2 separate regions of the Homo sapiens genome follow, and region 1 is reported to be linked to region 2. The links are microRNA targets in miRTarBase. Many come from high-throughput screens and were not tested one by one. Region 2 holds a microRNA gene; the other region holds the end of a gene's coding sequence.
The links. The annotated mature microRNA hsa-miR-1183 reads CACUGUAGGUGAUGGUGAGAGUGGGCA and lies in region 2 at 9,347-9,373, shown strand. An mRNA with a match to its seed (bases 2 to 7 or 8) in the 3' UTR can be bound and repressed. Matches are read on the target gene's strand: a 7mer-m8 pairs with bases 2 to 8, a 7mer-A1 pairs with bases 2 to 7 and ends in A, and an 8mer does both.

Region 1 (16,253 bases), not on the chromosome of region 2:
GGAAGCAGTTTATGTAACAAAAAAAGATTACTGTGTTTTAAAAATCACCTGATAAAATACTATTTTTTAATTTCTTAAATCTTTGAATTCTGTTGCTGGTTTAGTAGTACATTCAGCTGTTAACGTATGCTGCAGCTCATAGATATTTTTCTATTTCAGAGCAATAGTATGGTTACAGAACCGACGTGAAGCCACTGTGGAGCGAACGAGAACCACAAGCAGTGTTAGGCGAGATGACCCTGGAGAGTTTCGAGTTGGTCGTCTCAAGCATGAAAGAGTAAAAGTTCCACGTGGCGAGTCACTGATGGAATGGGCTGAGAATGTCATGCAAATACATGCAGATCGGAAATCAGTTCTTGAGGTAATCTCATATAAAATTAGATTTAGGGAACAGGAATGACACTTAGGGAACCAGCCCAATGTGTATCTTCACTGCATTAAAAACTGTGGTAGGTAAACATGAAGAGGGGTTTTCCTGTTCTGTAGGCAGAAGCCTTCTCCTCTGGCAGAGCATCTTTTTCATAAGAGGATGTCAGTCCACCTCCTTAGGGGTTAGGTCTTGTGCCATTAATGAGCAACAAAGAAGATCTCCACTCTTGAGGTGGCAAAGTGCTTGTTCTGCTTGAGGGCTTCTACCCATTTCATAACAAAGTTGGACTAAAATAGTAGTACTCACAAGGGATTCTTTTTTACTTTTACATTAAACTGTGCTGTTTGATATTTTGGGAGCACCTGGTTTTGTAATATTGTTTCACTTGAATTGTGCTTGGTATTATATCACTGGTCTGTGTTGAGACATGTTATAGCAAATGGTAGTATGACATTTAATATATTTAGTTTAGAAATGTTACTGTGGACATTGTTGGTTTTATTTCATATACACAGTATTCCCTATATGAGGAAGAGTGGAAATACGTCTCCTGTCACAGGGGTGAATCCAACTGGTTTGTTTTTAACTTTTGGATCATAAACTAATTGCAAGAAATATGATACATCTCTAGAAGATGTCCAAGGCTTTACATCTTTCACTTTATATACAGACTTTCATTGTATTCCTCCTACCCTTATGTTCTTCTTCTTCTTTTTTTTTTTTTTTAATAGAGACAAGTTCTCACTATGTTTCCCAGGCTGGTCTCAAACTCCTGGGCTCAAGTGATCCACCCGTTTCGGCCTCCCAAAGTGCTGGGATTACAGGCTTGAGCCACCATGCCCAGTTGTTTACATTCTTCTAATATAGATAATCTTTTTTTTTAACCATATGCTGTAGTTTTTATTATACTTTATGCAATCACTTTAAGGGTTTTTGTCCATACTCTTCCTGTTGCAAAAATGATTTAAAGTGTCTTTAACTCAGAAATAAGCAGAAGAGGCGAGGCGCAGTGGCTCATGCCTGTAATCCCAGCACTTTGGGAGGCTGAGGTGGGTGGATCACCTGAGGTCAAGAGTTTGAGACCAGCCGGACCAACATAGTAAAACCCTGTCTCTACTGAAAATACAGAATTAGCCAGGCATGGTGGTGCATGCCGTAATCCCACCTACTTGGGAGGCCGAGGCAGGAAAATCGCCTGAACCCGGGAGGCAGAGGTTGCAGTGAGCTGAGATCGTGCCACTGCACTCCATCCTGGGCGACAAGAGTGAAACTGTCTCAAAAAATAAAAATTAAAAAGTGGAAGAGTCTAGGCTTTGGTGTCACACAGAGACACACAAAAGTCTGTTCACCATCATTTCTTCAAGCAAATGATTTAACCTCCTTATCTGAGATTTGGTTTCCTTTGGTGTAAAAAGGAAATAATTATTTTGCAGGGTTGTTGTGAGAAGTAAATGTATGAATGATGCTTGGCACAGTGCTTAAGCATGTAATAGTGTACAACAAGTGGACTCTTTAGGAAAATTAAAATAACACTTCTGTGCTGTTTATTATATATATACACTGCTATTTTGAAAAAAGGTACATTACTGGATCAGATATGATAAATTTTGACAAGAATTAGATTATTTTTAAAAACACCCCAAACTTTACGTTTAACCCACAATTTATTTGTTCATATTTTAGGTTGAATTTTTAGGAGAAGAAGGAACTGGCTTGGGACCCACATTAGAGTTTTATGCTCTGGTGGCAGCAGAATTCCAGAGAACTGACTTGGGAGCTTGGCTTTGTGATGATAATTTTCCAGATGATGAATCTCGTCACGTAAGAATATTTCTCATTTTGTGACTTGAGTTGTGACTCTGCTTTCAAAAGTGTTAAAAATAGGTTATGTGTTCAGAGCATAAGCCAGGTTTCTGACTCTACTTTTATTATTGAATAATCTTGATGCAATTAAAATAGTTCTAAAGCGATAAAATTTAGTCACCAAAAGCTATTTAATAAAATTATATACTTTTAGATAGCCAAATTCATGAAGATGTTTAATGTTTATGGATTTTTTTCTTAGATGATGATAGGCTTAGTTTCTATTAACTTTTGTTTAATTTTATTTGCATTTCACCCTCTAAAAAATTAGGTTGATCTTGGAGGTGGATTGAAACCTCCTGGATATTATGTGCAGAGGTCATGTGGACTGTTCACAGCACCATTTCCACAGGATAGTGATGAGCTTGAAAGGATCACGAAACTGTTTCATTTCCTTGGAATTTTCTTGGCCAAATGCATTCAAGACAATAGACTTGTGGACTTACCTATTTCTAAACCTTTTTTTAAACTTATGTGTATGGGTGACATTAAAAGCAATATGAGTAAACTGATTTATGAGTCACGAGGTGATAGAGACTTACACTGTACTGAAAGTCAGTCTGAAGCTTCTACAGAAGAAGGTCATGATTCACTCTCGGTAGGAAGCTTTGAAGAGGATTCAAAATCAGAATTTATTCTTGATCCCCCTAAACCAAAACCCCCAGCTTGGTTTAATGGAATTTTGACTTGGGAAGACTTTGAATTAGTAAACCCACACAGAGCCAGATTTTTAAAAGAAATTAAAGACCTTGCTATCAAGAGGCGCCAAATTTTAAGCAACAAAGGTCTTTCTGAAGATGAGAAGAACACAAAATTACAGGAACTAGTGCTGAAGAATCCATCAGGTTCTGGGCCTCCACTTAGCATAGAGGATTTAGGGTAAGCATTATATGTACATTCTTCAATCCAATGCATGAATAAGTTTTAAAGCTTTTGTTTCTTTGTCGTCACTGATTTGCAATATATGAGTAAATAGTCTGTCAAAAACAGTAATATGCTGTAGGAAATATTGATGATCGACTTGAACCTTTGATTTAATATTATAAAGACAACACTCAGAATACTAGAATATTAGTTTATTAATCATCAAACCTTTAGAAGATTACCTGACTTAGCCAATGTGAATTTATATGCCTGTGTAAAATGTCCAGAGCCAACAATATTTTGACAAATTCATCTGCTAATATATGATTCACTTTGCAAAGCTCAAAAATTGGTTGGTATGTCAGCTTTATCACCAAAGGCTGTAGCAGTTGAGATGCTGCAGAACTTTTGATAAAACTCTGTTACTTTATGTACAGGTAATTATCATATCTTCAGCTGTGATTTTAGGTTAACTGCAAGGCCTTTTTTTTTTAATGTTTGCTGATAATGTTGGTAAACTGTGTTTGATAAATGGTTATATATTCAAGGTTTTTTTTAATATATATTTTTGTACACAGCGTGATTGACTTCAGTAAAGCAACAGTTTCTTCCTAAAAGTCTTACAAACATGTTGCTGTCATAATTCATTGCAAAATTTTTAGTTCATTAATTTTGTGCCATAAGTTAGAAGTAAAATATAGAAAGGTGGTTTCATGCAATCTTTGCAAAGCCAGACAGATTTGATAACAGTTGGCCTAGTAGATTTTGTCCATAGAATATTGCATTTAAAAAGTCCTCAACTTACTTCTAAGCTGGTGTACTGATTTTGTTGGAGGAGGAGAGGGGTGGGATTTATGGTTTTGATAGCCATGTTATTTTATTTAATTTTTTCTCTTGTACCCACTGATGGCAGATGATAGTAATGTTATAAAAATTAAACACCATTAGTAGTAGCTGCATGTCAGTTAATTTAATCTTTTTTGTCCTCCCAGTTTAAATTTCCAGTTTTGCCCTTCCTCAAGAATATATGGTTTTACAGCTGTGGATCTCAAGCCAAGTGGTGAAGATGAGGTAAAAAGTTTGCTTTTAATATAGTTGTAAGTTCTGACATATCCTCTTAGCAAGGCCAGTTGTACTAGACACTCCTGAAATATTCCTAGATACTGACAAATTTTCTTTTGCAGATGATAACAATGGATAATGCAGAAGAATATGTGGATTTGATGTTTGACTTTTGTATGCATACGGGTATTCAGAAACAAATGGAAGCCTTTAGAGGTAATTTTAAAGGATTTTTAGCATAATTGCTCTCCTTTCACTTTGAGACAGTTGAAATTATGGTCAAGAATTGCTGGTGGTCGGCTGGGCACGGTGGCTCACACCTGTAATCCCAGCACTTTGGGAGGCTGAGGCGGGAGGATCACCTGAGGTTGGGAGTTCGAGACCAGCCTGACCAACATAGAGAAACCCTGTCTCTACTAAAAATGCAAAATTAGCTGGGCATGGTGGCGCATACCTGTAATCCCAGCTACTGGGGAGACTGAGGCAGGGGAATTGCTTGAACCCGGGAGGTGAGGTTGCGGTGAGCCGAGATCACACCATTGCACTCCAGCCTGGGCGATGAGCAAAACTCCGCTGCACAAAAAAAAAAAAAAAAAAAAGAATTGATGGTGGTCGGGTGTGCGGGTGTGGTGGTGGCTCACACTTGTAATCTCAGCACTTTGGGAGGCTGAAGCAGGAGGATCGCTTGAGCCCAGGAGTTCCAAGACCAGCCTGGGCAACATGGCAAGACCCCATCTCTACAAAACATTTTTTAAAAAATTAGCTAGATGTGGTGGCACGTGCCTGTGGTCCCAGCTACCTGCAAGGCTGAAGTGGGAGAATAGTTTGAGCCTGGGAGGCTGAGGCTGCAGTGAGCCATGTTTGTGCCACTGCACTCCAGCCTGGGCAACAGAGGGAGACCTTGCCTCAACAAAGAAAGAAAGAAAGTGGACATAGGTTGCATACATTCTAGATTACTTGATCAGGATGAATTAACATGAAAGAATCATGATGGGAACAAAGTATATTACAAGGTAAATTACTTTTGAAAATGAGAACACAGTTTTGCCTGACTTGTATGACAGAAAGAGCTGGTGAACTCCAGACTGAGTAGTAATAAGAATTTGCATACTGACCATAGCAACTGAATGTTCTCTCTCTGTTCACGTTTGTGATGTTAAGCAGGGATTTCTAATTTAAAATACAGTTTTAATTTCAAGCTGTCTTAATTTATGCTTGTTTATTCAAACATTTATGAATGTTGAATATTCATCTTCTGTCCATTTCATCGGTAATGGGTATTTTTTTATTGTTGCATAATATATGTACATGTTTATGGGGCATTTTGATACACAGAATGTGTAATGATAAAATCAGTCTTTAGGACATCCATCATCTTGGACATTTATCATTTCTATGTGTTGGGAACATTCAAATTATTCTCTTCTAGCTTCTTTGAAATATATATTATTGTTAACTATAGTCACCCTACTATGCTAGAAAACATTAGAACTTACTCCTTTTATTTAATTGTAAGTTTGTACCCATTAAACTACCTCTCTTCATCCACCCCCACATGCAACATTCCCAGCCTCTGATACCATTCTTTTCTTTACCTTTATGAGATCAACTTTGTTGTTTTTGTTTTTTTGAGACGGAGTTTTTGCTCTTGTTTCCCAGGCTGGAGTGTGATGGCACGAACTCGGCTCACTGCAACCTCCACCTCCTGGGTTCAGGCGATTTTCCTGCTTCAGCCTCCCGAGTAGCTGGGATTATAGGCATGCACCACCACACCCGGCTAATTTTGTATTTTTAATGGAGATGGGGTTTCCCCATGTTGGTCAGGCTGGTCTCGAACTCCCACCCTCAGGTGATCTGCCCACCTCGGCCTCCCAAAGTGCTGAGATTACAGGTGTGAGCCACCTTGTCCGGCCAAGATCAACTTTTTAAGTTCCCACATATGAGTGGGAACATGTGATACTTGTCTTTCTGTGCTTGGCTTTTTTCACTTAATATAATGACCTCCAGTTCCACCCATGTTCCTACAAATGAAAAGATTTCATTCTTTTTTTTTTTTGAGACGGAGTCTCAGGCTGGAGTCCCAGGCTGGAGTGCAGTGGTGCCATCTCGGCTCACTGCAAGCTCCGCCTCCTGGATTCACGCCATTCTCCTGCCTCAGCCTCCCGAGTAGCTGGGACTACAGGCAGCCGCCACCACGCCCGGCTAATTTTTTGTATATTTAGTAGAGACGGGGTTTCACTGTGTTAGCCAGGATGGTCTCAATCTCCTGACCTCATGATCTGCCTGCCTCGGCCTCCCAAAGTGCTGGGATTACAGGCGTGAGCCACCGTGCCCAGCCCATTCTTTTTTATGGTTGCATAGTATTCCATTGTGTACATATACCACATTTTCTTTACACATTCATCCCTTGATAGATACTTAGATTGATTCTGATAATGGGTATTTTGGTTTGAAATTTGGTATTTTGGAATCGTAACTTGGAAACTGAGTTGTATGTTTGTTTTTTGTGTTTCCGTTACATGTACGATGTAGATGGGTTTAATAAAGTTTTTCCAATGGAGAAATTAAGTTCCTTCAGCCATGAAGAAGTCCAAATGATTCTTTGTGGAAACCAGTCACCATCCTGGGCAGCAGAGGATATTATCAATTACACTGAACCTAAGCTGGGTTATACACGTGACAGGTATGTGATACTATTTTCCAAGATCAACAAAATTATTTATATTCCCCAAATCAAATGACAGATTCTCTAAAGAACTTTAATTCAGTGAGTATCATAAAGTAAGTGAGAAAGCAGTGGTGTCTCACAGTTACCAGAATGCATATCCACTGATAAGGCTGGGAGGATACAAAAAGACAACTGACAGCAGGCCGGGCGCGGTGGCTCACACCTGTAATCCCAGCACTTTGGGAGGCTAAGGCGGGCGGATCACTTGAGGTCAGGAGTTTGAGACCAGCCTGGCCAACACGGTGAAACCTCGTTTCTACTAAAAATACAAAAATTACCTGGGCGTGGTGGCAGACGCCTGTAATCCCAGCTACTTGGGAGGCTGAGACAGGAGAATCACTTGAACCCAAGAGGTGGAGGTTGCAGTGAGCCAAGATCATGCCATTGCACTCCAGCCTGGGCAACAAGAGTGAAACTCTGTCTCAAAAAAAAAAAAAAAAAAAAGACAACTGACATCATGGCTGATGTTGATTCCTTTCCTCATTGTGTTTTAATTGTTCATTTTTAAAATTTGGTAAATTGTAAGCTGTTGGGCTATATACTACGTTTATATTAAACTTTTTATTGAATATAACAGATAAGTACACACATCATATATACAGTTTAGAGGATTTTGTCAAAATGAACACACCTGTATAATTGGTATCCAGAATATGAAACAACTTCAAAAATCCCCCTTCCCACCATATTCTTTTCTATTAATCTAATCACCATATGTTGATCAGTTTTGCTTGCTTTTGAACTTTTAATATATGAAATCATGTAGTCTGTTTTCTTTGTGGTCTGGTTTGAGTAATATTATGATTATGAAATTTATCCATGTTGTGGCATGTCGTTCATTTACTATTTCATTACATAAATTTATCACAAGATAATTATTTTGCTGGAATAAAAATTATTTCAGATCCCCTTTGGTATATTTATCCATATTTGAAATGATTTTGCAAGTGCATCCTGTGTTTTTATGATTTGCTGACTTTGTTGCAGAATAGATGGACCCCATACACTGTCAGTATTTTTTAGTTCTTACAATTTGTAAGTTCAAGACAGTCTTTGAGGGATTTTTATTTTTATTTTTGAGATGGAGTTTCGCTCTTATTGTCCAGGCTGGAATGCAATGGCACAATCTCAGCTCACTGAAACCTCTATCTCCCAGGTTCAAGCGATTCTCCTGCCTTAGCCTCCCAAGTAGCTGGGATTACAGGCGTGCGCCACCACGCCCAGCTAATTTTGTATTTTTAGTAGAGATGGGGTTTCACCATGTTTGTCAGGCTGCTGTTGAACTCTTGACCTCAGATGATCCACCCGCCTCAGCCTCCCAAGGTGCTGGGATTACAGGTATGAGCCACCACACCTGGCCCGGGATATTTTTAAAGTAGCTTATATTAGCCCATTTCATACTTAACCAAGAGTCTCTAGATGTGTTGTTGTTCTGGTGTGAGGATATTGTTTTTTAGGGGGCTTGTTGCTGCCTTAGAAAATAGTGGTAGTGATTTTCATTTAAATCTGCAGTCAACTCAATATAACTATATTTTTGTTCTTTTAGCCCTGGTTTCCTGAGGTTTGTGAGGGTTTTATGTGGCATGTCTTCTGATGAAAGGAAAGCATTCTTGCAGTTTACCACTGGTTGTTCAACTCTACCCCCAGGTGGACTGGCTAACCTGCATCCCAGGCTCACGGTTGTACGCAAGGTACAAGCTCTCTGGCTAATGGGGAATCCAAATGAAATTTAGTTACTTTACTTTTGAAAGAAAGAAGTATTTAAACTCATGGTCTTCTGTTGTGTTTGCTTTCTTGTTGTAGGTTGATGCTACTGATGCAAGCTATCCATCAGTCAATACATGTGTGCATTACCTTAAGTTGCCTGAATATTCTTCCGAGGAGATCATGAGAGAGCGCCTGCTAGCTGCTACAATGGAGAAAGGCTTTCATCTCAATTGAGCTTTGAAGTGCAATGGGAGACATCAGAGACTTTAAAAATACTAGTGAAGCCTCTTGTGTTTGTGTGCAGAGAAGTATATGATCCACCATGCTAATGACACTTGCCTTTTTTTCCACCATTAAGGCTTTAAGAACATGTGGAATAAGTTTTTTAGCTGCTAATGACAAAACAAATCCTGTAACTACCCAGCCAGCAAGTATATAGCACAGAACACTGTGTTACTTTACAAGGGCTTATGTGACTGGAATAAGGTGGTCCCACTTGACTGTTCCAAAGAGCAGCTTCTCAGATCTTCAGTGTTCACTGGTAAATTTCTAACAGTGTATTTGTGTAAAGTTTGTCATTTCATACTCCATACACTACAGTTGCTGTCACTGATCCCTGTTTTGCTGGCTTTTAAGCTACTTGGTCAAAAATCCTGCTTCCTTAAAACATAGAGAATTAATGAGCATCTCAAGCTTTTTCTTTTCCTTTTTAATGATGCCTGCACTATCAAGAGTATTCTAGTGTTCTCTCTTTGTTTGGCATATAATCATGCACCAAACTTTTTATTTCTTTAAGGTGGGAGTATATTTTTATTTCCTAAATGCCATACTATGAAGATCAAAGTCTTAAGTGTGTTTGCAGCTCAAAAATAAAGATGTATTAAGGGGGGAAAACCTGGTCTAAGTGCAAGGCACACTTACAGCGAGTTTTACTTTCGGTTGTATTTTCTTTGTATATTATAAACATTTATTTAACTTGTTGCCGTTTGAAGTAAAAAATTTCCAAAATGTATGCTCAACAATAATCATTAAAATGTTTGCAGCGTACAGAACTGTGTCATGTGACTATTTCAATGCAGTCATCAGACTTAAGAGCTTTAGCAGGTACTTGTCATTTTGAATCATCCAAAGTTTTCTGAAATTACTACATAAAGAAATGTGTTTTTCTATAGTAAATACGGGTATTAAAATTGAAAGGCTAGAAGAAATATATATTCACACACTTGTGATCCAATGGTTGGGTTCAGTTTTAAAGTATGCCTCAGCTAGAACTGACCAGTTACTTGTGTTATTTTTTTAAAAAAACACCAGATCCACAACTTAACTATTGTATCTATAAGGATATATAAGTAAGGATGTAAGTGAGATCCAAGAATGATTTTTAAATGTTGTGTGTCAAAACACGGGGATACCGCTGTTTTCTGGTTTTGAAGAAGGGACTGTATTTCCAAATTCCAAAGTAGATTTTCCAAATTCCAGTTATTACCATATCTGTGCTTATAGGTGAAAGGAAAGACACTAGGCCTGATTTAGCCAAATAGCTTTTTTTTTTTTTTTTTTTTCTCTTAAAGACAGGCTCTTGCTGTGTTACCCAGGCTGGTCTCAAACTCCTAGGTTCAAGCAGTCCTGCCACCACAGCTTCTGGAGTAGCTGGGATTACAGATGTGTATCACCACACCTGGCTCAAATGGTTTTTTAAGGAACCAAAAGCATGTTTGAAATTGCCCAGTATCGACCTGTTTAAAAGGCAAATTCTCTGCCTATGAGAGATATCTTCTGCTATAATTACAAGTCTCTAAGATGTCTATCAGTAGTCAGCTTTTACCAAGACTAGCCTGGCACCAGGGTTAGCGAACTATGGCCTGCTGCCTGTTTTTGAATGGCTCATGGCTAAGCATGGCTTTAAAATTTTTTAATTGTTGGGGAAAAAAAATCAAAAGAATAATATTTTATGTGAAAATTATGAAATTTAAATTTCAGTGTCCACAAATAAACACAGCCACGTACATTCATTTACATGGTTGCTTTTGCACTTCAATGGCAGAATTGAGTAGTTAGCAGAGACCATATGGTCCACAAAGCCTAAAATATTTACTATTTGGCCTTTTACAGAAAAAGCTTGCTGAACCCTGGTCTGGCAGGTAGCTACAGCAGATAAATTGATAACTTTACATAAAATAGGGCAGGGCACGGTGGCTCACATCTGTAATCGCAGCACTCTGGGAGGCCGAGCAGGGTGGATCACCTGAGATCAGGGGTTTGAGACCAGCCTGACCAACATGGTGAAACCCTGTCTCAACTAAAAATATAAAAATTAGCCGGGCATGGTGGCACATGCCTGTAATCCCAGCTACTCTGGAGGCTGAAGCAGGAGAATTGCTTGAACCCAGGAGGCAGTGGTTGCAGTGAGCCGAGATTGTGCCATTGCACTCCAGCCTGGGCAACAAGAGCGAAACTCTGTCTCCGAAAAAATAAAAACAAAAAGTTTATATAAAATCATAGCTGTTTTTGAAATATTAGGAGTCTTCCTCAGAAAAAGTCCAAGAACAAGGTAAGGCTGGCCAAATATAAGTATGAAAAGTCACTTAAAGCATCTTAGTGAAGTTATATGGCGACACAGCCTGTAAGAACACATATGCATGAGTCAAGTGTTCTGAGACATCTACCGGGGTCTCCACCTCAACTGTAAGTTCTTAAATATTGTTTCCTATGATACCTACCAACTATTTTTTTTAACTGTTATTCTCTCAAGGTTCTAAAATCTGTGCCGAGATGTAATTCAACTACTATTTTGGTGTGACCCAAAAATTAATTTTGTTCACTCCCTAGCTACTCTGGTGTACCAGTTTCAGCAGTTACCTGAATGTGCAACTGATGAAGTACCTACCAACTAGGACAGTGTTTCCCAGCTAATGTGTCTGAGAAAGACCCTCCATAGCACTTCGGTCTACGCTGGGCTTTCCCCAGACCTTGGCTACTTGATACAAAGGTGTATCTGTACACACAGACCACTCACTGTTCCCACAGGTCAGAAGCCTTCCTTTTGCCTTCCTGAACGAGTCCAAAAACAACTCAGGTTTGGAGTCCACTATTGACTGACTGCATTTTTATAGACATAAACCTTGATATTGCAAGTGGATTTTGAGAACAGGATAAAAAAAAGCTCCACTGCCTACCCCCCACAATACACAGACAAACCAAACGGAACAGTGCTGAATGATAACTCTGAAACGTGCATTTGGCCAGGCGTGGTGGCTCACGCCTGTAATCCCAGCAGTTTGGGAAGCCAAGGCGGGCGAATCACTTGAGGTCAGGGTTTTGAGACCAGCCTGGCCAACATGATGAAACCCCATCTCTACTAAAAATACAAAAATTAGTCCAGTGTGGTGGCACACGCCTATAATCCCAGCTGCTCGGGAAGCTGAGGCAGGAGAATTGCTTAAACCTGGGAGGCAGAGGTTGCAGTGAGCTGAGATCATGCCACTGTATTCCAGCCTGGACAACCGAGCGAGACTGTCTCAAGAAAAAAAATGCATTTATGTCCTATTTTAGAGGCTGGAGTGTCACAGAAGAATGAACTATTGGATCATTCCATAGGCTGGGACAGTATCTTAATATACCAAAAATAGACTTTGGCCGGGCAGGGTAGCTCATGCCTGTAATTCTTGCACTTTGGGAGGCTGAGGTGAGAGGATTGCTTGAGCCCAGGAGTTTGAGACCAGCCTGGGGAACATAGTGAGACCCCGTCTCTATATTTAAAGGAAAAAGATTTCTACTTTCTTCATTGCACCTGACCTCCCACCCCTACATGCATATATATAGTAGACCTCCCTATTCTTGGGGGATAAGTTCTAAGACCCCCAGTGGATATCTGAAACTGGGGATATCTGAAACTGAGGATAGTACCAAATCCTATATATAGAGAGAGAAAGAGAATGTTTTTTCCTATACATACATACCTATGATAAAGTTTATAAATTAGGCACAGTAAGATTAACAACAATAATAGAACAATTATTACAATATAAGAAAGTTATGTGAAAGCTGGGCATGGTGGTGTGCACCTATAGCTCCAGCTACTTGGAAGGCTGAGCAGGAGGATGGCTTGAGCCCAGGAGTTCAAATCCAGCCTGGGTAACAGAGACCCCATCTCTTACAAAACAAAAGATGGCCAGGTGTGTTAGCTCATACCTGTAATCCCAGCACTCAGAGGCTGAGGTAAGGAGGATCGCTTGAGCCCAGGAATTCAAGACTAGCCTGGGCAACATATGGAGACCTTGTCTCTACAAAAAATAAAAAAAATTAGCTGAGTGGGGTGGCACACACCTGTGGTCCCGGCTACCTGGGAAGCTGAGATGGGAGGATTGCTTGAGCCCAAGGGGTTGAGGCTGCAGTGAGCCGTAATCATGCCACTGCACTGCAGCCTGGGCAACAGAGCAAGACCCTGTCTTTAAAAAAAAACGAAAAATAATTTTATATATATATATGTATATGCATGTAGTCTCTCTCAAGACCTTATTGCACTGTACTCACTCTTCTCATGATCTGTCCATCTGGTAACCAAGACAGTTACCAAATGACTGTCAAGTGGGGAGTGTATACAGCATGCATATGCTGGACAAAGGGACGATTCACCTCCCAGGCAAGACGGAGCGGGACAGAGCAGGACAAAGTGGGATGGTGCAAGATTTCATCACACTACTCAGAATGGCATGCAGTTTAAAACTTATACATTGTTTATTTCTGGAATTTTCTGTTTAATATTTTGGGACCTCAGTTGACCATGAGTAACACAAACCACAGAATGCGAAACAGTGGATAAGAGAGGGACTACTGTACATACTTTCGCCTAAGACAGTTCTGTATATTCTTCTGTTAACGGGGTAGCAAAAGCATATAGAAAGGTTTTGGGGGGATGCAGTGCATTGCTCTTCTGTAATGACAGTAATTTACTTCAAGACATTGCAGGAGAAGGGGTTAAAGGAGTAAAGGGGAGGAAGAGAAGGATTCATTTCATGCCTACCTGTACAGAGACACTTTCTTGCTTTCTACTTTTTTTTTTTTTTTTTTTTTTGAGACGGAATCTCACTCTGTGCCCAGGCTGGAGTGCAGTGGCACAATCTCGATCTCAACTCACTGCAACCTCTGTCTCCTGGGTTCAAGTGATCCTCCTACCACAGCCTCCCAAGTAGTTGGGATTATAGGCGCGTGCCACCATGCCCGGCTAATTTTTCGTAGTTTTAGTAGAGACAGGGTCTCACCATGTTGGCCAAGCTGGTCTTGAACTCCTGACCTCAAATGATCTACCCACCTTGGCGTCCCAAAGTGCTGGGATTATAGGCGTAAGCCACCATGCCTGGCTGCATTCTACTTTTAAACTTTGAACTAAATTTCATTAACAGTAAGCTTATTAATAAGCAAACCTTTTAAAATGTGGCATAAAAAGACTGGGCACAGTGGCTCAGGCCTGTAATCCCAACACTTTGGAAGGCGAAGGCAGATGGATCATGTGACTGCAGGAATTCGAGACCAGTCTGGGCAACATAGTGAAACCCTATCTCTACAACAAAATACAAAAATTAGCTGGGTGGAGGGGGTGCGCACCTGTGGTCCCAGTTACTCAGGAGGCTGAGGTGGGAGGAGCACCTGAGCCCAGGAGGTACAGGCTGTAGTGAGGCATGATCACACCACTGCACTCCAGCCTAGGAGACGGAGATGCTGTCTCCAAAAAACAAACAAAAAACGGGATAAAGGATAGCTGTAGGGGCTCTCTGGGGCTGTCTTAATGTCTGACCATCCATTATTTGAAAGTAATGTTCTCTATAGAGTTAATTACATAATGGCATTGTAATTACTAAGTGCCCTTAAAATGAGTATCAAAGGCTTTTACAAACTGGCAAATAAAATTTAACTCTGCATCTTTGTTAGGTACATGTTATAAAAGTTTTTTTGTTTTGTTTTTGTGTTTTTGAGGCAGGGCCTCACTCCATTACCCAGGTTGGAGTACAGTGTTGTGATCATAGTTCACTGCAGCCTCAAACTCCTAGGCTTGATCAATTCTCCCATCTCAGCCTCTTGAGTAGTTAGGAGTACAGGTGCTCACCACCACAGCTGGCTAACTTTTTAATTAGTTATTTACTTATTTTTAGAGACAGGGTCTCACTCTGTCGCCCAGGCTGGAGTGCAGTGGCATGATCTCGGCTCACTGCAACCTCTGCCTCCCGGGTTCAAGCAATTCTACTGCCTCAGCCTCCTGAGTAGCTGAGATTAGAGGTGCTTGCCACCATGCCTGGCTAACTTTTTGTATTTTTAGTAGAGACAAGGTTTTGCCATGTTGGCCAGGCTGGTTTCAAACTCCTGACCTCAAGTGATCTGCCTGCCTCGGCCTCCCAAAGTACTAGGATTACAGGCATGAGCCATCACACCTATTTATTTTTTGTAGAGATATGGTCTTGCTGTGTTGCCCAGGCTGGTCTTGAACTAATGGGCTCAACCAATCCTCCTGGCTTGGCCCCCCAAAATGTTGGGATTACAGGCCTGAGCCACCGCACTCGGACTTTTTTATTTTTGAGACAGGGTTTCACTCTGTCACCCAGGCTGGAGTGCAGTGACACGATCATAGCTCACTGCAGACTCGAACTCCTGGGCTCAAGAAATCTTCTGCCTCAGACTCCCGAGTAGTTGAGACTACAGGTATGTGCCACCACACCCGGCTGATTTTTGCATTTTTTGTAGAGATGAGGTCTATGTTGCCCAGGCTGGTCTTGAATTTCTGGCCTCAAGCGATCCTCCTTCCTCAGCCTCCCAAAGTGCAGGGGTTACAGGTGTGAGGCACTGCACCAGCCCCACATTACAAAGCTTTTAGAGCCAGGCCAGGAAGGTTCAAGGTTGTAGTACAACATGATCATGCTTGTGAAAAGCCACTGCAGTCCAGCCTGGACAACACAGCAAGACCTGCTTCTCTTAAAAACAAACAAACAAAAAACACCTCTTGGCTGGGCATGGTGGCTCATGCTTGTAATCCCAGCACTTTGGGAGGCTGAAGCAGGTGGATCACTTGAGGTCAGGAGTTCAAGAACAGCCTGGCCAACATGGTGAAACCCTATCTCTACTAAAAATACAAAAATTAGCTGGGCTTTACATAAAACCGGGCAGGGCATGGTGGCTCACATCTGTAATCACAGCTCAGTCTCCTGGGGACTACATGCCTGTAGTCGCAGCTACTCAGGAGGCTGAGGCAGGAGAATTGCTTAAACCCAGAGGTGGAGGTTGCAGTGAGCTGAGATCACACCACTGCACTCCAGCTTGGGTGACAGAGCAAGACTCCGTCTTAAAAAACAAAACAAAAAAACAAACAAAAAAACACCTCTTAAAAAGTTAATTTTACTAAGCCTTTTAAAGGAATAAGACAGCCTTCAGAAGTCAGGCACTGTGGCTCATCTGTAATCCCAGCGTTCTGGGAGGCTGAGGCAGGCAGATCACCTGAGGTCAGGAGTTTGAGACAGCCTGGCCAACATGGTGAAACCCTGTCTCTACTAAAAATACAAAAATTAGCCAGGTGTGGTGGTGCATGCCTGTAGTCCCAGCTCGGAGGCTGAGGCAGGAGAATCGCTTGAACCCCGGAAGTGGAGGTTGCAGTGAGCCGAGAATGTGCCAGGT
Region 2 (16,253 bases):
CCGAGAGTGAGCCAGGGCTGCCAGCACGCTGTCACCTCTCAATAGGAAGTTGGAATATGCTTTGTATAAGAAAGAATGGATAGACCTTTAAAGTTCTAGTGGAGACTTTGAGGAGAATGTTAGAAAATGAAGTTCACAAGGTTGGTAGAAGTTTGGTTGTAGAATGACGATGTCAGACCAAGGACAGGTGAAAAGGGTATGTGAATGTGTATATTTTTGAGGGGTAGGGGACAGGAAGTTTCATTTATAAAGCAGTGTTTTAGTTTTAGTTTTTTTTTTTTTTTTTTGAAGACAGGATCTCACTCTGTTACCCAGGCAGTGCAGTGGTGTGATCTTGGCTTGCTGCAACCTCCACCTCCCAGGCTGAAGCAATCCGCCCACCTCAGCCTCCCAAGTAGCTGGGACTACAGGTGTGCTGCCACCAGGCCCAGCTAATTTTTGTATTTTGTAGAGATGGGGTTTTGCCATGTTGCCCAAGCTAGTTTTGTTTTTTAACAGACGTAGGAGAAATGGGGAAGCCAGTTTCGGGACCATAGTATTGACTCAGATATCAGTGATGGGAAGTCTGAACTTGAGTGTAAAGTATGTGGTTCTCAAGAGTCTTAAAAAAATAAAAATAAAAAAGAATTTGATGTATGAATGGAGAGAGGAAAAATATTTTAAGGGTAATTCTGTAGAGTTTGAATCTGGATGACCATGAAAGTGCTTGTGCCATTGAAAGAAATGACTTCCAGAAAATGAAAGTGATGAACCTGAATTTTGATATTTGTTAATAAGTCTGAGCTAATAGTATGTTGAAAGTGTCTAGTTTGTATCTGGAGATTGGTCCTGAGAAGAGATCAGAATCAGCAGTCTAGATATGAAAGTCTTTTGCATGGAGATGGTGTAGAAATTATGGCAGTGTATGAAATTGAGGCAGACAGTTTTGAGTTTGAATTGCAGAATTATGAGAACTGAACTTAGGGTTACACCTGGTCTTTGGGGGCCAAAAGCAGAAAGTTAAGAAAAGTGAGAACCATCAGAGAAATAGAAAGAGAACAGGGTAGTATGTCAGCAGCTAAGAGGAATCTCAGATGGTATTGAATGTTGACTTGAGAGTATTGAGAAAAGTTCAGCAGGTTTTGTGTTTGAATCATTTGATAAGACCTAAGAACTGTGCTGTTCAATATGAAAGCCGTTGGTCACATGTGGCTTATAAACCTAAAATTAATTAAAATTAAAAACTTATTTCCTCAGTTGCATTAACTACATTTAAAGTGCTAATTACCACATGTGGCAAGAGGCTATCATATTGGACAGCACTGATAAATAACTTTTCTTTTTTTTTTTTTTTGAGACAGGGTCTGTCACCCAAGTGAAAGTGCTTCTAAAATGAGATTTTAAAAAGGTGAGTCAATGTTTGGAGAACCAGTCAGATGCTGATAATAGAAGGGAGAATAAAGATACTTTTGGGTGACTTCTCAGTAAATTAGGAGGCAAAATCATCTACAGATTGTAAGGTGCAAGGAAAGGGGAATGAGGATTTGAGGACAGAGGGAAAAAAATTGGAACAGCCAATGAAGGGCTATGTACATTGCCAGCATAGGATGAATGAAAGGTTACCAAGCAACAGTGATGGCTCAGGTAATGTAAAGTTTAGGGCTTTATTAGCCCTCCTGTAATCTCTTTCCTTGGTGTTTAGCAGCCTAAGAACACCAGAAAGTGGATGATAAGAATTACCATCAGGTGTGGCAGAAGTTCAGCGAGACACAAGGGATTACCACGGATGCTAAGCGAAGCCAGAGGAGGGTTGGATTGAGAGTGTGTCCACATAACTAGGGAACAAAGTGAGGATGAAGATTGAGTTCAAAAATAAACGGAGTGAAAGGGACAGGAAGTTAAATATCGTGGTTGGAGAAGAGATAGTGCCAAGCCTGACTTCTTGGAGGAAGAGCAGTTCTAGTTGAAGACAGAGTTTGAGCTGGGTTGTGTCTGTAGGAGACATCTGAATGTAGAACTGATTTTTTTTCCAAACCTGCTTCCTCTCCGGGGTTCCCCTATTTCTGTTAATGGGATCATCATCACTCAAATTAGAATACTTATAGATTTATTTGATCTTTATCAATTAATTATCTTAAAAGTTTATAGTTCTAAGGTTCAAGTCTTAGTTTAGCCACTTAAATCTTGATCAAGTGTTTCTCTAGGTCTGACTGTCCTCATCTGTAAAATGGCAGAAATCATGTTACTTTAGTGGGATAAGATATGTAAAGTACTTTGCACAGTGCTTAGAACACAGAAAAGATTTCACTAAGTGCTAGCAACTATTTATTATGATAATTATTATTTATTCTTATATCTGATTCATTCCCTTGTCAGGGCGCTCTCTTTTTTTTTTTTTTTTTTTTGAGATGGAGTCTAGTTCTGTCACCCAGGCTGGAGTGCATGGCCTCCCGGGTTCATGCCGTTCTCCTGCCTTAGCCTCCCGAGTAGCTGGGACTACAGGCACCCACCACCACGCCCAGCTAATTTTTTGTATTTTTAGTGGAGACAGGGTTTCACTGTGTTAGCCAGGATGGTCTCGATCTCCTGACCTCATGATCCGCCCACCTCGGCCTCCCAAAGTGCTGGGATTACAGGCGTGAGCCACTGCGCCCGGCCAGTCAGGGCTCTCTTTCAGAGCCTCGTGATCTGGAAGGTAAAATAGCTTCTTTCCTAACTGGTATCTCTGCCTCTACGTTTTCACATGTTTATTTTGTTCTTGACATTTCAGAGTTTTCCTAAAACTGAGATCTGATACACCCCTGCTCCGTTTGTCACAATCTTTGTTTAAAAATCTATTTTCTATTTTTTTTTTTTTTTTAGAGATGGGGTCTTACTGTGTTGCCCTGGCTAGACTCAAACTCCTGGGCTCAGGCAGTTCTCCAGTCTCAGCCTTCTGAGTAGCTGGGACCACAGGTGTGCACCACTGTGCCAAGCTTCCTCACAACCTTCATAGGCTTCCAATTGCAGACTTTTCAAGTTATAAAAACTGTCAAGAGGTAATAGAGCCCAATGTAGAATAAAAGTTGGTGATAGAGGCTATAGCAATGCATTACTACTATGGTGACTCATTGTACATCTAAAGGACCGGAAGTAGCTTTAAAACTTTTTAAGACTATTTACAATTTCACATAGAATTAGCCAGATTTTCCTTTTTTGATTTATTTTTCACCATCAACTTAGGCAAGTATGGTTCAACGTAGAATGAGGGAAAATTAGAAAATTTTTTTTGTTTTGTTTTAAATATGGCAAATTCTGTTTAAAGAAAGTATTCATATCTTTCTAGGGTTTTCCGGCTAGGAAGGATTTCCTCAACATAAACAGAGTTGAGAATAGTTGACAGTTATCTGGAGCAAGATTAGAATAAATAGAAATAACTAGGTACCAAAGAGGGTGTATATCTTTGTTTTCCTAAGCTTTTCTCTCCAACACCAAATGACTAGAGTTGCCTTTCCTTCCTAGCTCAGGGAGTTTCAAAAGAGCAATACCTTCAAGCATCAGAATTGATAGACAGGTGTTACTGTGTTTACCTCTAACTCCCTGTTGCCTGCAAAGTCCAAATAATATCCTAGTGCTTAAGGAGAGAATATAGCCAACCAGAAAAGAGTGTAGGGCTCTGGATTCAGGCTGACCTAGGTTCACATCTTAGCTTTGCCACTTAATAGCAGCTATGTAATCTTGGGAAATATGCATAACCTCCCCAAATCTTAGAAGACAGCATTAGACAAAGTATAGGTGTAAAATAGTTTAGTTCGATTATAGCCATTTAGTAAATTGAGTAAGTGCGAGTGATTATTGTGTGGCAGGTATTCTGGATTGGGGATGGGAAGGATGGGCATAATACCTTAACAAGGATTCCCTCTCTCCTACCCTAGAAAGTCCCTTCTTTAAGAAGTTGACAGCCTGGACAACATAGCAAGACCTTGTCACAATAAAAAATTTAGCTGGGTATGGTGGCACTTGCCTGTTGTCCTACTGGAGAGGGCTGAGGCGGGATGATTGCTTGAGCCTAGGGGTTTGAGATTACAGTGAGCTATGATTGCACTACTGCACTGCAGGCTGGGCAACAGAGCAAGACCCTGTCTCTTAAAAAAAAAAGGTTTAATTAAGGCCCTTCCTGATCTATCCTTCCAACCCTATCTTTAGCCCCCTCACCTCCTTGAACTTTAATCTCCAGTGGTATGCTGTCTCAGGGTTATGTCTTTAAATATAGCCTTCCCACTGCCTTCCCATTTGCCTTTATTCTTTCCACCTGTCAGTGGATTCATCTCCTCTGTGAAGCCTTCATTGTTTCTTTTTGACAGTAAATCACTGTCCTCTCTGTTAAGTAGGCATTTTATGCACATTTTTGTTATTGTGCATATTATAATTATTTATTTGAGTGTGTCTTCCCTACAGGTGAGGGCTTCTGGTCAGATCTTATTTATCATTTCTCCAGCAGCATTAAGCACATAGCAGGTACTCAGTAGAAGTTTGCTGTATGAATAAATCTCACTTCTATACTAAGTCCACATCCAAAGTGCTAGGACTTAAGGAAATGTGAATGGCTGTTAAGTATTTGTACTTAATACATTTGCAGTTTGTTTTACTGGAGTTAACATTCCTCTTGAGTGTTTATCATATTCCAGACATTATGCTAAGACGTGTGCTATATACACTATTTCAGTCAACTCCCACAGCTCCCAGGTCCTCAAAGGAAGAAACTGCAGGGAGAATCAGAACTCAGAAACAGGTCTGCTTGACCCAAAAGTTCTACTTTCGGCTCTACTAAACTGTTGCGCCTGTTCAGTAACTCAATATTGGTTCACAGATTGTACATAACCCATAGTATGTTGATAGTCCTGGAAGTCATTGGCTAATGGGGTTCACCTTCATTTAAGAGATACAGAAGGTACTCGGTTATTTCTTAATATTTTCATTTATAGTTCATCTACAGGAAAACATGTCATTGAAGCTCTTCCATAAGGCAAAGAAGTATTTTGTAATTAATAAGCATAATTTTCAAATCTAGGATTTTTTTTTTTTTTACCACCAGTGTACCATGGAATCTCTCTAGTCATATGTCTGTCAAAACTGTCACAGCCTATTCCCAAATGTATGTAGCTCTCTTTTCAAAGGCTTTAATTCAGTCATATAGTTTCTGTTTTTGTGGAGACTCATGTAGTTTTTATAGGGATCACACAAATGTACCATATTTTAATTTTTCATATGTTTTGTTATAGCTGTTTATAATGATATGAATGAGAGGCATAAATGTTAGTTGAGTTATTCCAGTGCTGAGTTTCAGTGGATTTCTTAATCTCAGCATTATTGACATTTTAGGCCAGGTAATTCTTTGTTTTTGGGGTCTGTTTTGTGCATTGTAAGATGTTTAGCAGCATCCCAGGCCTCTACTCACTATATACCAGTAATCTCACACTTTGTGACAACCAAAAATGTCTCCAGACATTGCTGAGTATCTCCTGGAAGGCAAAATTACCTTCATTTGGGAACCACTGGCTTAAAGGTACTTAGAGCCAACAAAAGTAGAATTAAAAAAAAATTTTTTTTTAAATCTAGTTACCTTTAAAAAAACAACTTTATTTATATATATCCATACCATATTATACAACAACTTCAAGTGTATATTCAATGGCTTTTGGTATATTGATAGAGTTTTGCAGCTATCACCACAATCTAGTTTTAGAACATTTATATGACCTCATAAAGAAACCCTTATTAGCAGTCATTCCCCATTTCTCCTTTCTATCCTCCCCAGCCCTAAGCATATTTGGTTATCTTTTTATGTTTAGGAATATACATCCTGCTTGCTTATTTTAAGTCAGATCATTATGTAAACCAAATCCTATTTTAGAGTGTGTTTATTGAAAGTTATTTGCAATGTTAGGAGACATATTTTTTGAGAGGACCTTAGACATTTTCTTAGGCAGATTCCAAGTTTAATCTGTAAAGGAAGTCAATCTAGGTAGGCTCAGTTAAGAATCATTTTAGTATTATTCAGAACAGAAAAAATCCCACTGCCCCCCATGGCAAGTTTTGTATCATAGAAATCAACAGCTTTTGTTTTTCCTGATCAGTTATATTAGAAAACCTTGTTCCCTAGGTTATATGCACAAAACATAATTAAGAAACACATGTACTTTGAACCTGCTGTATGATTATTATTAAATAGGTCAATTTCAGTTTATTGGTTGGTGAGTTTATTTATAGGTAGATAGATAAATAGTTTTGTTTTTCAAATTTGCGGATCTGTCTTACTTACAGAGTAATGTTACTTACTATTTACTATAAGAAAAAACCTTGCAAATCGTCTTTTCCAAAAGAAGAAATAAGGCACAGTTGGATTATTTTGTGTACACACACGCATCTGTTTTAAATTGTGTTCATTTCTGTCCCTATTCCTAAGCTAACAGCACCTTATTTTAATTACTGTAGCTACCTACATATCTTTATTCTACTATTCTGCTTTTTCAGACTTTTCTTAGCTGATTTTTCACATGTCAAATTAGCAGACTTTCATGGAAAAGTTTCGAATTAAATTTGTGATTGCATTCACTTCCTAGAATAATTTTGGAAGAATTGACACATTTAGTTTAATGATTCTTCCTATCCAAGAACATATATTTCTCTCTTTTGAGGTCTTGTTTTATATCCTTTATTAAATCTTCCTCAAGATCTTGCATATTACTAATTAGATTGATTTCTCAGATATTTGTGGTTATTGTTGCTATTATGAATGGAATTTTTTTTTTTTCTTTTTCAATTGTTTGTTGCTGATATGGTTGGGAACTGTTGCTTTTTTATGTTGCTCTTGTATTTGGCCATCTCGCTGATGTACAGATGTCATATTATAATAATTTGTTGATTTTTCTATAGTTTTCTAAGTAATATAATTATATCTTTTGTAAATCATGACAGTTTCGTTACTTCCTTTTAAGTCTTTATTTCTTATATAGATCTGTTATTTCTTGCCTTACTACATTGGCTTAGACCTTAAGGAAATGTACAGTATTAGAGGTGAGAGCAGTAATCACTTCTATTAGAAACTACAGTGAGATATCCAATTTTTTGTTTATTAAATGATTTTATACATTTTACTGAATTTCTCATGCTCCATGAGATGAAACAGCATTCTCCCATACTTCTGGTGGAAATGTAAATGAATGCAGCTCTTTATATATACTCCTGTAATTTTATAATCTAGATAGTCTTACAAATGTTTCATGTCCTTTGATTTAGTAATCTCACTTCTAGGACTATCCCTTGGAAATAATAAACAATATTTTAGTTCAAGTTGCTCATTACTTTATGTTACTTATAATAAGTATTTGGAAATAAATATCTAACAGTACAGTAATGGCTTTGTAAATTATGGTATATGATGAAATATTGCACAACTATTAAAATAATTTGTAATATTAATAACTTAGAAGTACTTATATTACTAAATAAGTAAAAGAGGATAATACAGAATTTTTATATAGTAAAGTTGTATCAGCATCAAAATACATTGAACAAAGATTAAAACAGAACTTAGATCATCACATCAAAATGATAATAGTGGTAATCTATGGGTAATTACTTTCTGGATGATTTCATTTCCTCATTCATAGTTTTCTATGGTGAGCATGCTTTGTTCTTAAAATCAGAAGAAAAAGAAACTTAAAGTGTATGTGTTTGTAATACTAAACTATTTATTTTCATCAAAATAGGTAGAAAGGGAGAAATCTTAGCCTATTCCCTAAATGGCAAGTTTAGTTATAATTTTTTTTTTTTTTTTTTTGAGACGGAGTCTTGCTCTGTCGCCCAGGCTGGAGTGCAGTGGTGAGATCTCCACTCACTGCAACCTCCGCCTCCCGGATCCAAGTGATTCTCTTGCCTCAGCCTACCAAGTAGCTGGGACTACAGGTGCCCGCCACCACACCCGGCTAATTTTTTTGTATTTTTAGTAGAGACAAGATTTCACCATATTGGCCAGGCTAGGACTAGTTGGTCTCAAACTCCTGACCTTGTGATCCACCTACCTCGGCCTCCCAAAGTGCTGCAATTACAGTCATGAGCCACCATGCTGGGCCTATAATTTTTTAGAGTTAATATTTTTATAATACTCTTTTCAAAAAAAAAACACCTTGCTGAATGTAGATAGCAAATGTCATAGGAGAAATCTGATACCTGAGAGAGTAGTACATAGTTTCAGAACCAAGGTTGAGAGTTATGCTCTGGGATCTGCTTCTAAATGATCTGACTGCCATATCAGTGAGTCAGGGAGGAAGTGTAGCAGATATCCACTTGATTTGGTTTCTTACTGTCTTGTCACCCATGTGCATGTGTATTGTAAACTAGCTGTCATTTAGCAGCCCTGTGATATACTGCTGGCCGAGTTTCGTAAGAAAGCTTCTATGTTTGTATAGATTTTAGATTATCATTCGCTTTATTTAAGAAACATTCATTAAGTACTTTCAGTGTGTCAGGAACCTTGGTAGCCAAAGGACAAATGACATAAAAACCACACAGATGGCCTCTTTCTTGAGCAGCTTTTGTTGGAAATAATTTATGACTAATATTATGATGGAGTGAGATGGTGTCTTACTAGTAAGACCAGAAATACTTAAATTCTAATTCAACCAATTCTTGAGATCCCTTAGGGAGCTAGGTATACCAAAATTCAAGTTAGAATTTGTTGGCTTAGGCATAGGCCCCTGCCTCACAATCCAGAGAACTAGGTTATTCTATATGGAATATGCCTTTTTCCTTTACCAGCTAAACCTGACTTTCCTTTCTACGTGTTAGCTTAAATTCAAGTCGTCTCAAATTTTACTACTCTACTAAGGCAAAAAACTACTGGTACTAAAAGAAAATGAGCAAGAAATGTCCAACAAGCTAGATCTTGTTGAATAGTTAGCAATTCAGATGTCTTACTACCTACCAACAAACTGTCCCCCTCCATTACCTTGGCCCAGTTTCTATATTTGGAAAAAAAAAAAAAAAAAAAAGCAGAACAAAAAAGGAATAAGAAAGATGGCTTGGCTGCTCCAAGCAGCCTTGGAATGTTTTACCTCTGGTAATGTGGAAGAAAAATAAAAGAACGGCCATCCTCAGTCTGTTTCACCATAATGTGTAGTTACAATACCAAGAAATTTTGAGTTATTAAAAAAATTATTTTACAAAGCAGTTTCATTGGTAAGAAGGATTAAAGACTAAAATCTGTAAGATGAATAGACTTTTGTCAGACCAAGGGAGATGGAGGTTTGGGGTGGGAGAATGTGTTGGATTCCAGCTATATTATTCAAATGCTCGGAGACACAGAACATTAGAGAAGACAGGAGTTCACTGTAGGTGATGGTGAGAGTGGGCATGGAGCAGGAGTGCCAAGAGATGAAGTTATAAAACTAAGCAGGAGTTAGATCATGAAGAACTTTATGTACTATGCTAAGAAATACTGACCTTATTGTGAATGTATGGAGGGCCCATTGGCTTTTTGGGGAGCTAGGTCTGCAATATGAATATTAGAAGGGGCAAAACTGGTGATAAGGGCTTGCACTAGTGTACAAGCAATAGGTATGGTGAAAATGGAGACATTTGAGATATTTTGAAGAGGTAGACTTAACAGGGACTTATGATCAACATAGATAATGTATATGGTGGAAAGAGAATAGCTTTTTGAGTTGGATAAGTGTGGGTTCAAATCCCAGCTCTGTCACTTTTCCATTTTAGGATCTTGGATGTTTTACATACCCCTGAGAACCTTAGTTTTCTCATCTTAATTGGGACAGTAAGCTGGGTGCCATGGCTTGTGCCTATAGTCCCAGCTACTTGGGAGGCTGAGGCAGGAGGATCACTTGAGGTCAGGAGTTTGAGTGTAGCGTGGGCAACATAGTGAGACATAATCTCTAAAAGAATTTTAAAAATTAACTAGGTGTGGTGGCATGCATCTGTAGTCCCAACTACTCAGGAGGCTGAGGCAGGAGGATTGCTTGAGTCCAAGAGTTAGAGGCTACAGTAAGCCATGATTGTGCCGCTGTACTCTAGCCTGGGCAAGAGAGCAAGACTCCATTTATTAAAAATAAAAATTTGGGACAGTAATATTTAGCCCATAGGGATGTGAAACAATATATGGAAAACATCCAGTAAAGTGCCTTACCACATAGTAGATATAAAACAATAGTTGCTCTTGTTGTCAGGGTGAAGGAGATAGAGAGGAATCAAGAATGACTTCCAAATTTTCTATTTGAATGGTGAAAAAGAGCTATATTAGGAAAGTGGGCTAAGCTATCTGGTTCTTAGATTGCTTGTGAGGATTCAGGTGGAAGTGTTCACTGGCAGTTGATAGTAAGAGTATGACACTTCTGAGTGGAAGGCACAGATCTGTGAGTTAATCAGCTTACACATAGCAGTAAAAGTTATGAAAGTAGATGAGGTCCCCCAAGAAGAGAGTTAGAATGAGAAGTCAGAACCCTGGAGAGTGGCCTAGGAAGAGTAGAGGGTGTATTTTGTTTGATTGTTTGTTTGTTTGTTTGTTTTTGAGAGGGACTTTCTCTGTCACCCAGGCTGAAGTTGAAGTACAGTGGTGCCATCACGGCTCACTGAAGTCTTGATCCCCAGGGCTCAAGTGATCCTCTCACCTCAGCACCTCATTCTCATGAGTAGCCAGGACTACAGGCACATGCCACCATGCCTGGCTAATTTTTTAATTTTTTTAAGAGATGGCATCTCACTGCGTTGCCTAGGTTGGTCTTGAACTCCTGGGCTCAAGCAGTCCTCCTGCCTCGGCCTCCCAAAGTGCGGGGATTACAGGTGTGAGCCACTGCACCTGGCTGATAAATCTTTTCAGAAAGTGACATAAATTTAGATTTAAGTGCTGATTTTAAAAAATTGCTAAGGCCATGCATGGTGGTGCATGCCTGTAATCTCAGCTACTTGGGAGACCAAGGCAGGAGAATTGCTTGAGCCCTGGAGTTCAAGACTGGTCTGAACAGCAGAGTGAGACCCCCATCTCTTAAAAAAAAAGAAAAAAAAAAGCAACCAAACAAAAAGGAGCTAACAGAGAAGAAGGGGTTTCTGAAATGTAGGAAGTTAGCTCACAGAGTCAAAATTGAATAAGGATGGAGTGGCGAGTGGTGTCAAATGCAGCAGAGCAGTCCTGTAATGGTCACTGAAAAAATGCACAATAGATTTGGTCATTAGAAGGAAGACTGTGAACCAGGAGCTGAGTAAGTCCTTGTGGTAGAGTGCTTTGAATGCCAGACTTTGGTCGGTGGAAGAATGATTAAATGTTATTGAGCACGAAAGTGAGATGATCAGAACACTACTTTTTTATTTTTCTGGCAGCAGTGTGAAGGATGAGAAAGGAGGGAAAGCTCAATTTAGGTTGGTAGAGGCACAGATTGAACAAGGGCTTGGATCAAGATGATAATCTTGCTTGGAAACAGGTTAGCGTAAGAGCTGTTAGGCAGTAGTGTCTTCAAAATTTGGTCATCACTGGATGTAATGAGTAAAGAAGTAGCCTAAAAGATGACATTTTAAGGTTTTCAGTGTGGATAACAAGGAGAATAGGGGTAGCATTTACTGAAACAGGGACATTAGCAGAAGCAAGACTGGAAGATGAAATCATTTTTTATTTTTAAACTTTGATTTATTAAGCATATGCTATTGAGTGGCACTGTTATTGAGTTATTAGGCACTGTTACGGTACTAGAGATACAGCAGTGAACATAATAGGCAAGATCCCTACTTTCATGGCACTTTACCTTCAGAAGTGAGGTGAAGACCAAATTATAAAAGGACAAAGTAATTTAAGACAAATAAGACAAAACTAGGTGATGATACAGTGATATATTGAGGGGAGCTTTTAGATGGGATGGTCAGGAATGGCATTTCTAAAGAGGAGAGATTTGAACTCAGACCAGAATATTACAAAGGAATCAACTATGCAAAGATCTGGGTGCAAAGGCATCCCCACTTAGACTGGAGAGTATATGCAAAGTCCCTAAGAAGGAAATGAGCTTGATTTATTTGAGGGCCAGAAGAGAGGCCAGTATATCAGGTGCAGAGTGAGCAAGGGAGAGACTAATAGAGATGAGCTCTGAGAAGTCAATAGAATTAAACTTAAGTGGGGCCTCGGAGGTCTTGCTCTGGAGTTTGGTGGCTTACTGATGGCAGTGGAAATAAAGCAGTATGTTGAACTTAGCTGTCTGTGAAACATCTAGATGAAGTCAATTAACGGGCTTCAATATACAAACTCAAATATAATTTGCCTCTGTTATTCATTGAAATAACTTTCCAAGTTGTTTAGGCATTGAACAAAGAAATGCTCACAATATGGAGGCTTGAGGAGTGTGTCAAGGACATGGTCAGGGGACCAGAGGGATCAGGAATCTCTAGCAGTTCTTCCCCACCCCTCACCCCCAGACTTAGCTTTGACTTGAAACTCATCTAGCAGTTCTTTACCAAAATAAAGGTCATCTTAAATATTATTGCGACCTTTAAAGTAATGACTGTTATATAAATGTTATGAGAAAAGTAGTCAGAGAATCACGGCCAAAAATACCTGTGTCTTCAGGGGATGTAAAGGGTACTTACCAACTTAAAATACCTGCAGCTCCATAGGGACCATGCTGTAGATTTTGTATAGTGCTTGTTCAGACAGTACTCTCATTTCTAGAAATGCATTTTTTGCAGTAAACAAAGTGTGTGTATCACTGTGCTTCTTGGTACACAAGTAGTTTGAATAGATTTTGTAGCCAAGGTCATCCTTAAGCCATCTAGTTTTACTGAATACATGTTCAAAAACACTGAAACAAAATAATTATACCTTTTGTTTATGTATTGCTTTATAATTTATATAGCCTTTACCCCTGGAAAATCAACTTGATCCTCAGGAACAGCTCTTTAAAGTAGATAGGGAGCAGAAATTTTATGGAAGTCAGTGTTACTATTTTAGAGTTGAGGAAACTGAGGATCTCTGAGTGCACAGTCATAAATTTACAACTCTCACTTCACTTGCATTGCTTTACTTACCACACCATGCTAATTCAAAGGTGTACAAAAATGTAAATTTTAGTAGAGGGTTTGTATCCTTACTAAAACAGTGACAAAATAAATTTTTTAATGTGCATGTTAGTTATGGGTGCTACCAGAAGGATTAACGGTGCTGTGGATACGCAGAGGAGAGTGAGATTGACTTTGGCTGGGAGAGTCAGAGGTTTAATTTTGTTTAGAAAATGTGTACTGTTTTCTTACTTGGTACTTTTTATTGCCTCTTCTTGGTTGCCCCATACATTTAAGGTACTACATGTGCAGCTTTGAAATAACCTCCCCCACCCTTTTTTTGTTTTTTGTTTTTTGTTTTTTTTTTTGAGACAGAGTCTCACTCTTGACGCCCAGGCTGGAGTGCAGTGGCACAATTTCGGCTCACTGAAACCTCTGCCTCCCGGGTTCAAGCGATTCTGCTGCCTCAGCTTCCCAAGTAGCTGGGACTACAGGTGTGTGCTACCACACCTGGCTAATTTTTTGTATTTTTAATAGAGATGGGGTTTCACCGTGTTAGCTAGGATGGTCTCCATCTCCTGACCTCGTGTTCCACCTGCCTCAGCCTCCAAAAGTGCTGGGATTACAGGCCTGAGCCACCACGCCTGGCCTGAAAGAAACCCTTTTATTTTGTATGCAGGACCGGTATGTTTGTTTCTGCTAGCATATTTTATTGTTATTTTGAGACAGAGTCTCGCTCTGTCGCCCAGGCTGCACAGTCTCAGCTCACTGCAAGCTCTGCCTCCCAGGTTCATGCCATTCTCCTTCCTAAGCCTCCTGAGTAGCGAGTAGCTGGGACTACAGGCGCCCGCCACCACGCCCGGCTAATTTTTTGTATTTTTAGTAGAGGCTGGGTTTCACCATGTTAGCCAGGATGGTCTCGATCTCCTGACCTTGTGATCTGACATCTCAGCCTCCCAAAGTGACATATTTTATTCTTGTATTGCCACTGAACTCAGCAGAGATGAATTGGTAACAGTAGCTACCATGTAATGAGCAATTCCGTGCCAGCACTCTGGTAGAGGATTTGTAAATTTACTTAATACTTACATCAACTTTCTGAGGTAGAAACATTCTTTCATAAATTGGTATTTTCTTTTCAGTCCATTCACATACTTGTTATTCCCACACCTGATGGAGAGAATGTAGAACTGTGTGAAAGAAAAGATAATTATAAGGCATTGTAGGCCGGGCACGGTGGCTCACACCTGTAATTCCAGCACTTTGGGAGGCCAAAGCAGGTGAATCACCTGAGGTCAGGAGTTTGAGACCAGCCTGGCAAACATGGCAAAACCCTGTCTCTACTAAAAATACAAAAAAAATTAGCTGGGCATGGTGGCACACGCCTGTCATCCCAGCTACTAGGGAGGCTGAAGAAGAAGAATTGCTTGAACCCAGGAGGTGGAGGTTGCAGTGAGCCGAGATCGTGCTACTGCACTCCAGCCTGGGCGACAGAGCAAGACTCCATCTCAAAAAAAAAAAAAAAAAAAAAAAGCATTGTATTTCAGGATAATGTTAAGCCATGCCAATAGATTTTTTTATTGTTGTTTTATTGTGCATTATTTATTATATTTTTCCCAAAGTGAAGAAGCCAAGCTGGTATATATACTAATCTGAGTGATGAAGTCTAAGCTATATAACATGAATGAATAAAGTAATAATATCTTAAATGTCTTTTTATGATTACAGTGACAGTATGTAGTAATCTTGGGTGGTTTTGCATTTCAAAAACCACTTTATGTATACACTAAAAAAAGTCGAATCAATAAAGAGATGTTTATTTAAACTATTTAGGAATGCAAGATGTCCATAAAACTTAATCCTTTGTTTAGTGACTTTTCACTCCTGTATTTTCTTGTTATGATAAGATATGTTGCTTACCGTGGAAATGGTAATAAAGCTTTGTGTTTATATAACATCTTTTAGGATCTCAAAATGCTTTTAGACTATCTCATGTATCCTCATAGTATTTTAGTGAGTAGGTAAGTGGCAAGTATTATCTTCATTTTACAGATGGAGAGAGAAATTAAGCCACAAAGTGAGTTAAATGATGTATGTATATAGTTCCGTTATCTAGATACATAGGCAACCTGAGCCACTAAAGTAAGAATACTATATTTTAGAAGGATTGACATAGTATAAGCCATTAACCCCTTAGTTTTTGTACTTTACACAGATTGTTAGAAAAAATTTATTATGCACATAGATTTTTTTTTTTAATCCTTTCTTTAGGTGTAGAAAACATTACAATACTTCTTTTTTTTCTTCCTTTTTAGGTCAGCAGCAAGGACAAGATGGAGTAAAAGTCCAGCAAGCTACTATAGCTCCTGTAACTGTAGCAGTTGGAGGAATTGCTAATGCCACGATAGGTGCTGTTAGTCCTGACCAACTCACACAAGTGCATTTGCAGCAAGGCCAGCAGACTTCTGATCAAGAGGTACAACCTGGCAAGAGGCTTCGAAGAGTTGCCTGTTCCTGTCCTAATTGTAGGGAAGGAGAAGGAAGGTAAATGCTGTATTTTTCAACTGTGTCTATTTGGAAGGCATAAAACAGCAGTTAAAACCAAGTAATTGGCTGGGAATGATGGTCACTAGAACTTCATTACCTTTGTAGCCTAGAAGTTGATATATAATATTAGAAAGGGAATTAAGTTGGGCTATTTTAGGAATGAAATTTGAGCGGTCCTCCGCCTTGTTCCTTACACTTTTAAAAAATATTTTTTCTTTCTTCCCCACCCCTCCCCCACCCCAACAAGATGGAGTGTCACTCTGCTGCCTAGGCTGGAGTGCAGTGGTGCAATCTCAGCTCACTGCAATCTCTGCCTCCCGGGTTCAAGCGATTCTCCTGCCTCAGCCTTCCGAGTAGCTGGGATTAAGTACAGGTGCCCGCCACCACACCCGGCTAGTTTTTGTATTTTTAGTAGAGGCGGGGTTTCACCATGTGGGCCAGGCTGGTCTCGAACTCCTGACCTCAGGTGATCCACCCACCTCAGCCCCCCAAGTGCTGGGATTACAGGTGTGAGCCCCCTCGCCCAGCCCATTTTTTTTCTTTTTCATAAAATATTTACGTAACTTTATTGATATAAAACTCATTCGTACACCATACAGTTCACGAATTTAAAGTGTACAATTCAGTGGTTTTTAATATATTCAGAGCTGTGTAGACATGACTACAATCAATTTTAGAGTGTTTTCATCATCCCCAGAATA

Region 1: the mRNA of HECTD1 is a reported target of hsa-miR-1183. Seed matches in the 3' UTR shown: 7mer-m8 at 9,189-9,195.

What each region holds. Positions count from the first base shown.
Region 1 is chr14:31,093,505-31,109,757 of GRCh38, reverse strand. It overlaps HECTD1 (HECT domain E3 ubiquitin protein ligase 1), which reads left to right. Exons shown (of 43, transcript NM_015382.4): 36 at 160-361; 37 at 2,054-2,191; 38 at 2,505-3,112; 39 at 4,090-4,168; 40 at 4,282-4,375; 41 at 6,692-6,842; 42 at 8,434-8,578; 43 at 8,691-9,641. The coding sequence ends at 8,828. It overlaps AP4S1 (adaptor related protein complex 4 subunit sigma 1), which reads right to left. Exons shown (of 6, transcript NM_001128126.3): 6 at 13,308-16,253. Among named protein-coding and RNA genes, the nearest start is that of STRN3, 75 kb to the right of the region's middle.
Region 2 is chr7:21,461,759-21,478,011 of GRCh38, forward strand. It overlaps MIR1183 (microRNA 1183), which reads left to right and starts at 9,300; the gene lies at 9,300-9,388. It overlaps SP4 (Sp4 transcription factor), which reads left to right. Exons shown (of 6, transcript NM_003112.5): 4 at 15,321-15,549.